Homo sapiens: one gene and its partner. Each later gene encodes a partner of the first gene's protein in a complex. Each region holds a gene or a part of one and is shown in the gene's direction. Other genes may lie near its edges. The genes, in order: MTA3 and CDK2AP1.

Evidence for each region.
Region 2: MTA3 (region 1) and CDK2AP1 share a complex: the UniProt entries of both Homo sapiens proteins name them as parts of the nucleosome remodeling and deacetylase (NuRD) repressor complex.

Annotation. Positions count from the first base shown.
Region 1 is NC_000002.12:42,574,982-42,578,796, forward strand, and holds part of MTA3 (metastasis-associated protein MTA3), read left to right. Parts: intron 1-3,815. UniProt on the Homo sapiens protein: Acts as a component of the histone deacetylase NuRD complex which participates in the remodeling of chromatin.
Region 2 is NC_000012.12:123,261,573-123,265,387, reverse strand, and holds part of CDK2AP1 (cyclin-dependent kinase 2-associated protein 1), read left to right. Parts: intron 1-65; coding exon 66-192; intron 193-3,584; coding exon 3,585-3,652; 3' UTR 3,653-3,815. UniProt on the Homo sapiens protein: Inhibitor of cyclin-dependent kinase CDK2. Also acts as a component of the histone deacetylase NuRD complex which participates in the remodeling of chromatin.

The DNA of each region.
Region 1 (3,815 bases):
ATTGAGGCAACTCTAAACTATTTACCATATCAGTTTAATTAGAAAGTTAATTACATCGAAATAGAAATCTTGACCTATGAGACCCTATATTCTTTGGCTGTCACTGCCCCTCTCTGACCTCCACTTTCGCTGAAAGCAGGTGGGAGCTCTGCCTTGCTTACTTGGCACAAAGCACAATGGGCTTTTGGCTGTTTCTCCCTGCAACCACCTTAGGAGGACCGTTTATTTGTGTCCGTCCTACCCCTCACCCCTTGCTCTTTTTTCCATATCATTTATCACCTCCAAATATACTTACTGTGTTTATTTTCATTACCTGTCTTCCTAGAGTGTCAGCTGCAGTGATCTTTTCTGTTTTGTCCAGTTATGCATTCTGAGTGCCTTAGAATAGTGGCTGGCACATAGTTAAAGGCATTCACTAAATACTTGTTGAATTAATTAATTTCTGAAATGTCTGATGTTAATGCTTATGTGTACATAGCTTTACTATTTACAAACTGCTTTGATTCATTCATTTTACAAATAAAATTGAGGACCTTCTACCAGCCAGGTACTTTTAGACAGTGAGAATGCAAGGGTGATAAAAAAAAAACAGGTCTAGTGGAGACAGACATCAACCATATAGTCCCACAAGTGAAAGTAAAATTGTAGCTGTGCTAAGTTTAGAAATGTCACAGCATGGTGCTCTGGAAACCTAACCCAGGATTCACGTTTGTTACCCTTTTGAGCCTCACAGAACCTTACACCTTAAGGTAGCTAAATCATGCATTGTTTTCTTGAGGCACATAGTAGCTAAATTATTGGGTTGCACATCTAGGTGAACATAGCTTATTTCACACTCCTTTATCATTTCATGGCCATTCATTTCTGAAATGCCCCCCTCATCCATCCTCACCTCCTCCCTCCGCCTACCTGTTGTCAGCACAGAGTCATCCATGTAATAGCGAGTTTCTGGGACTGGGGTTGTGTTGTGAGAGATGGGATTCTTTGTAATTTCACAAAATGGTAGTTTGAATGGCTAATTGAAATATTTACATAGGGTCTTTATTTCTGAAGGGATGTGAAAAAGACATCTTATTTTAGATAATTCATTAAGCAAATATTATTGAGTACCTGTTTTGTACCAGGCACTATGCTAGGCTCAGAGATAGAATGTGAACAAGATGTACATGGTCTCTACCCATACAGGGTCCACATTCTAATGAGGGAGACACCCGGAAAGACAAGTTGATGGGCATAAAGAAAATAGTAATAGTAATGAATTGTATTAACTTCTAAGAAGGCAAGAACCTTGACATAGAGAATGACAGGTCATTTCCTTTAGGTAGGGTGGAACAGGACATTGAAGTTGAGGCCTAAAGGATGAGGAAGAGGGAACCATGGGAAGAGAGGACGCAGGAGTGTTCTAGATAAAGGCCCTGGGAAGATCAGAGGTGAAATTGGCTAGGTAGGGAAAGTTGTTAACATGATGGGAAAATCCAAATAATGATTTAAAAATACTTGAAGACAGGCATGGTGGCTCAGGCCTGTAGTCCCAGCTGCTCGAGAGGCTGAGGCAGGAGGATTGCTTGAGCCTGGGGGTTTGAGACCAGCCTGTGCAACATAATAAGACCCCCCATCTCTGAAAAAAACCAAAACAAGGCCAGATATGGTGGCTCACGCCTGTAATCCCAGGACTTCGGGAGGCCGAGGTGGGTGGATCACCTGAGAGGAGTCTGAGACTAGCCTGGCCAATGTGGTGAAACCCTGTCTCTACTAAAAGTGCAAAATTAGCCGGGCATGGTGGCGCATGCCTGTAATCCCAGCTACTCGGGAGGCTGAGGCAGGAGAATCGCTTGAACCCATGAGGCGGAAGTTGCAGTGAGCTGAGATCGTGCCATTGCACTCCAGCCTGGGCAACAGTGAAACTCCATCTCAACAAACAAACAAAAAAACCAAAACAAAACCACCTCTAAACTGAAAATACTTACTTTGTTCTGATAGATAAGCTAGGGAAAAAAGGCTACTTGGGAGGCTGAGGCAGGAGGATCGCTTGAACCAGGGAGTTGGAGGTTGCAGTGAGCCGAGATTGTGCCACTGCACTCAAGCCTGGCAACAGAATGGTACTCCATCTAAAAAAAAAAAAAAATATATATATATATATATATATATATATAAAAATGAACTCTTAATTGCTGTAATGCACTTAGTCTCAAACCCTGTACTCATTTCATTAAATGCCATTAACAGTTGCAGACTGGCACTGGGCTGTAGACCCATGAGTAACCATGCTTCAGAAGAATGCTGGAGAGGGTGTGTTTGTAGAGGGGAAGAGGAATATGGTAGCTGTAAGCTACCTAGTAGCTAAGTGAGTGCATGGTCAAGAAGAGACTATTTATTTTGAACTATGCTCCCCGCCCCCTAAGCAGGTTTAAATAAGAATTTAATTAGCTTTGTATAGCATCCCTATTGGAGGAACTCACTAGTGAGGCAGAAAAAAATATGCCTTGAAACTGTTGATTTGGATTTTTTTTTTTTTTTGAGACGGATTGTCACTGTGTCACCCAGGCTGGAGTGCAGTGGTGTGGTCTTGGCTCACTGCAACCTCCACCTCCCAGGTTCAAGCGATTCTCCTGCCTCAGCCTCCCGAGTAGCTGGGACTACAGGTGTGTGCCACCACACCCAGCTAATTTTTGTATTTTTGGTAGAGATGGGGTTTTACTATGTTGGCCAGGCTGGTCTAGAACTCCTGACCTCGTGATCTGCCCACCTTGGACTCCCAAAGTGTTGGGATTACAGGTGTGAGCCACCGCACCCGGCCTGGATTTTTAATGTCTCAAGAAGAGACAAAAATCACATTGAAAATCCAAAGCAGCAGTTTCAAGGCATATCTCAAGAAGACAGAAATGACTAAGAGCTTATATTTGAAGTCATTGATAGATTTTATTTTATTTACATGGAAATTTTGGCCTGTTCATTTAGCAGATTGCTGGATCATTACTTCTGGAGAATGTATTTGATCACAATATTATGAAATATAGAAGCACTTTGGTTAGAAATTTAATATGATTTCAGTTTTAAGGGGCACTGTTTCCACAGGACTATTTCTTAATCTAAAATACGGCTGCTGGACTTCATAAAATTGACAAATTTACTGCAGCACTTATATTCTTCTTTGTATTTGAGTATATCTGTAAGACCAGAGAAATTTCTGAAAATTTGTTCTCACACTTGTTTGAAAATGGAAATCACAATAGCATTTTATTATAATCTGTGTGTTTTTACAGGGAACTTTGTAATGAATGATTGACCTTCTTGAGAGCTCTCAGAATTCTAGAGAATAGGAGAGCAGGAGCCTGGGCCCCAGCTGCAGTAAATGACAGCATAACTGAATTTTTTTTTGAAGCCATCATACTTTGGAAGAACCTAACTGAATATTGTTTGCATTGTAGATTGTAGCCAAAAAGAAATGAGAGTTTCAGTGTTCATAACTCAAGGTTTTTAATATTTTTAGATGTGAAGGTAAACTAAGTACTGCTTAGAATATTGACTCTTAGAGATTCATAGACTTCCTTGGTGTAGAGAATGCTTTTCCAGGTCACCTGGTCTATTCTGCATGATGGCTGCTTCCCACCTGCAGAGCTTCACTGTCCATGGAACATGGGATACTTAGGGGAGGGCTTGGTGATTTTACACTTAGCTAGTGCTTTCTGGGAATGGGTTTGGACGAGGTGTGTTTAAATGACTGAAATAAATTATTTCCGTCAGTTGTGGCTTTAAAAATTGGTGGGATTAGTTTCTTTCTCTTTTGTTTTTTTTAAGGCTAGTTAATTGAAGCA
Region 2 (3,815 bases), on another chromosome or scaffold:
GGGACTACAGGCACGCACCACCACGCCCGGCTGATTTTGCTGAACCCATTTCTTTCTGATTCTAGGGAACTGGGAACAGCCAGGTGCCCCAAAGCAAATACGCGGAGCTGCTGGCCATCATTGAAGAGCTGGGGAAGGAGATCAGACCCACGTACGCAGGGAGCAAGAGTGCCATGGAGAGGCTGAAGCGCGGTAAGCCCGGCCCCGCTGCCCTGTCGGTGACCACAGTGCTAGACCTTTAACTCTGGAAAGACTTTTGGGGAAAATGTGGGAAGGTGGGCTAGGGATGAGGCTCACTCATGGGAGCTCCTGTCTTGTTACAGAGTTGCCGTCTGTGGTGGAGGCCTCAGGCAGGCGATGGGTCTGGTAGCGAGGGGCCTGGGGGGCTGGATGTCTTCAGAGGGGTCTTCTGGGAAGGGCAGCCCAGGCAGGGAGCCCTTCTTACCCTGTGTGCTGCCAGGGGGTCTGCTGGCTTTCAAGGGTGTGTTCGAAGTGCCCCCTGCCCCCGACCCTGCCTGGTCTGCTCCTGTGGGCCGACACTGGTCCTAGGGAAGCCAAGCTCAGGGTTCATCGGTGCCTGCACTGCCCTCTGCTGTCACCTCTTTGGAGGGAGACCCAAGGAAGTGTGTGGGTCTGTGCTAGGGTCTGGGGAGGGAGGCTGAGAGCACTTTGTTCTTTAATGGTTGGAGAGGGAGGGCAGGCAGGAGATGACAGAGCACAAGGGACTCGTGTTAAGGTGTGACTGTCCGTCTGATTTCGAAAGGACGTTAAATAGGTTGCTACCTTCTGAAATAAAAGGGGAGTGGAGGTAGGACAGGATTTCTATTTTAGAAGGCGACAGTGCAGCAGAGCCATAGCCCATGAACGCATTCAAGATGAGGGGAGACTTGGGGCTCTTTTTTTTTTTTTTTTTTTTTTTTTTTTTGGGAGACGGAGTTTTACTCTTGTTGCCCAGGCTGGAGTGCAGTGGTGCAATCTCGGCTCACCGCAACCTCCGCCTCCTGGGTTCAAGCGATTCTCCTGCCTCAGCCTCCCAAGTAGCTGGGATTACAGGCATGTGCCACCACACCTGTCTAATTTTTTGTATTTTTAGTAGAGACAGGGTTTCTCCAAGTTGGTCAGCCTGGTCTTGAACTCCCAACCTCAGGTGATCCACCTGCCTTGGCCTCCCAAAGTGCTGGCATTACAGGCGTGAGCCACCACGCCCGGCCTGGGACTTGGGGTTCTTAAAAAGGCTGGAGAAGCAACCTGGGAGAGGAACATTCTTTTTTTTTTTTTTGAGATGGAGTCTAGCTCTGTCACCTGGGCTGGAGTGCAGTGGCACGATCTCGGCCCACTGCAACCTCCGCCTCCCGGGTTCAAACAATTTTCCTGCCTCAAGCCTCCCGAGTAGTTGGGACTACAGGCGTGCGCCACTATACCCAGCTAATTTTTGTATTTTTAGTAGAGACCAGGTTTCGCCATGTTGGTTGGCCAGGATGGTTTCGATTTCTTGACCTTGTGATCCTCCCGCCTTGGCCTCCCAAAGTGCTGGGATTACAGGCGTTGAGCCACCGTGCCCGGCCTGGGAGAGGAACTTTCTTTGGTTGTAAATCTGTAGCATAAATGGGGGCTGTAGTTGAAGTTATGCCCCAGTGACACGAGGGCCAGTTGAGGACAGGCTGCTGCCAGGAGCGGGGTTGCTCTGGAGTTTATGAAACCTTTGTGAAGAGGTTGACGGGTCTCAAAGCTAGGTTGGGACTACCAGGGTTAGAGGATGTGATTGAAGAGGGCCTGGGGGAAGGGATGCAGAGCCCAACCCTGGTCTCGCCTGGAGAGTTGGGTGGTCCCAGGGCTGCTCTCCGGTAGCTGGGGTGCTGCTTACCTGAATGGAAATTCCTGGGAAGATGCTGGGTCCCAGAGTCCAACAGGTAATTTGCAGTCACCCAGAAAAGGCACTGGTTCAAGTCAGCAAATGCGTACAAACTGCCAGTCTTTTAGTAACAAGGAAGACCTAGTGCTACCCCTTGGCCAACAGCCAAGCCCAAGCTTACCAAGCTCATGTCACAGCAGGGTGAAAACACGTCATAGAGGGGTCAGGGAGTTAGGAGCTAGGAGCATTGTAGGTAGGTTGGCAACTACAGCCCAAGAGCCAGGAGCCAAGAATAGTGGTTTTTTTTTGTTTTTTTTTTTTTTTTGAGACAGAGTCTCGCTCTATCACCCAGGCTGGAGTGCAGTGGCGCGATCTCGGCTCACTGCAACCTCCGCCTCCCGGGTTCAAGCAGTTCTGCCTCAGCCTCCCGAGTAGCTGGGATTATAGGCGCCCACCACCACGCCCATCTAATTTTTGTATTTTTAGTAGAGATGGGGTTGTACCATGTTGGCCAGGCTGGTCTCAAACTCCTGACCTCAAGTGGGCAACCCGCCCCGGCCTCCGAAAGTGCTGGGATTACAGGTGTGAGCCACCGCGACAGGCATGGTTCTTAATGGTTGAAAAAAAAAATGATTTTGGGACGTGTGAAAGTTATCTGAAATTCAGACTTAAGTGTTCATAAATAAAGGTTTGTGGGTCCAGGTGTGATGGTGCATGCCTGTAATCCAGCAGTTTGGGAGGCTAAAGCCAGGAGCAACATAGTGAAACTCCCATCTCTACAAATAATGATAAAACAGCCAGGCATGGTGGTGCGTGCCTATAGTCCCAGCTTCTCCGGAGGCTGAGGTGGGAGGATCACCTGATCCTGGCAGGTTGAGGCTGCAGTGAGCTGTGATCGTGCCACTGCACTCCAGCCTGGGTGACAGGGCAAGATGCTGTCTCAAAAAAAATTTGAGTGAAGTAGTTGTGTCAGAGACTGTAGCCTGCAAAGCTCAAAATATTTGCTGTCTGGTCCTCACAGAAAACATTCTCCAAGGCTCTGAGTTAGTTTCTAAGATTTGTGAGGTGATGATGTGGGATGTCATTCCCAGTGGCCTCTGGGAGTCATGTATTAGAAGGAATAGAATCCTTAGTGTCTATTAAAAGATCATATTTCATGAAGTTCAGTAGAGGCAGAAAGAAAAAAAAGGTAAGCACCAAACCACAGAGACAAAAGACTGGGGAAGATTCATCGGGCAGAAGGTAGCTGCAGTCTTGTGGGGTTGTCCCCGTGGACCCAGGGTCCCGCGTGGGTAGTAGTCAGTTCTCTGCGCCCTCACGTGTGCAGCTGAAGCCATTCTCTTGCTTACTTACGCCGGTCAAGCCCTGTCTAGAATTCAGACTGAAGAAGCCAGAGAAAAATCTCCATAGTGGGTCAAGCAAAAGAATTTGGGTGGAGACATGTCTTTCATCCAACAGTGTCGTGGAAGGACAGCTTGCTGGTGCACCTTGAATGCAGGAAAAAATGTTTAGAGAGACAGGAAGAGTTGTGGTGAGGAGGGAAGGGCTTTAGAGAGGGATGGGATTGTTAGCGTCCTTCAGGGTTGCTTGGTTATAGGTTTCCCTGGTTCTCTTTATGTCTGAGGGTTTTGTGGACAGGCTGTGGAAGGATGGATCCTCTTGCTGTTTCAGAATGGGCTTTGCTGGCTGGTCCTGTGCACTTGCTGACCTCAGGTCTCTGCCTCTGTTTCAGGCATCATTCACGCTAGAGGACTGGTTCGGGAGTGCTTGGCAGAAACGGAACGGAATGCCAGATCCTAGCTGCCTTGTTGGTTTTGAAGGATTTCCATCTTTTTACAAGATGAGAAGTTACAGTTCATCTCCCCTGTTCAGATGAAACCCTTGTTTTCAAAATGGTTACAGTTTCGTTTTTCCTCCCATGGTTCACTTGGCTCTGAACCTACAGTCTCAAAGATTGAGAAAA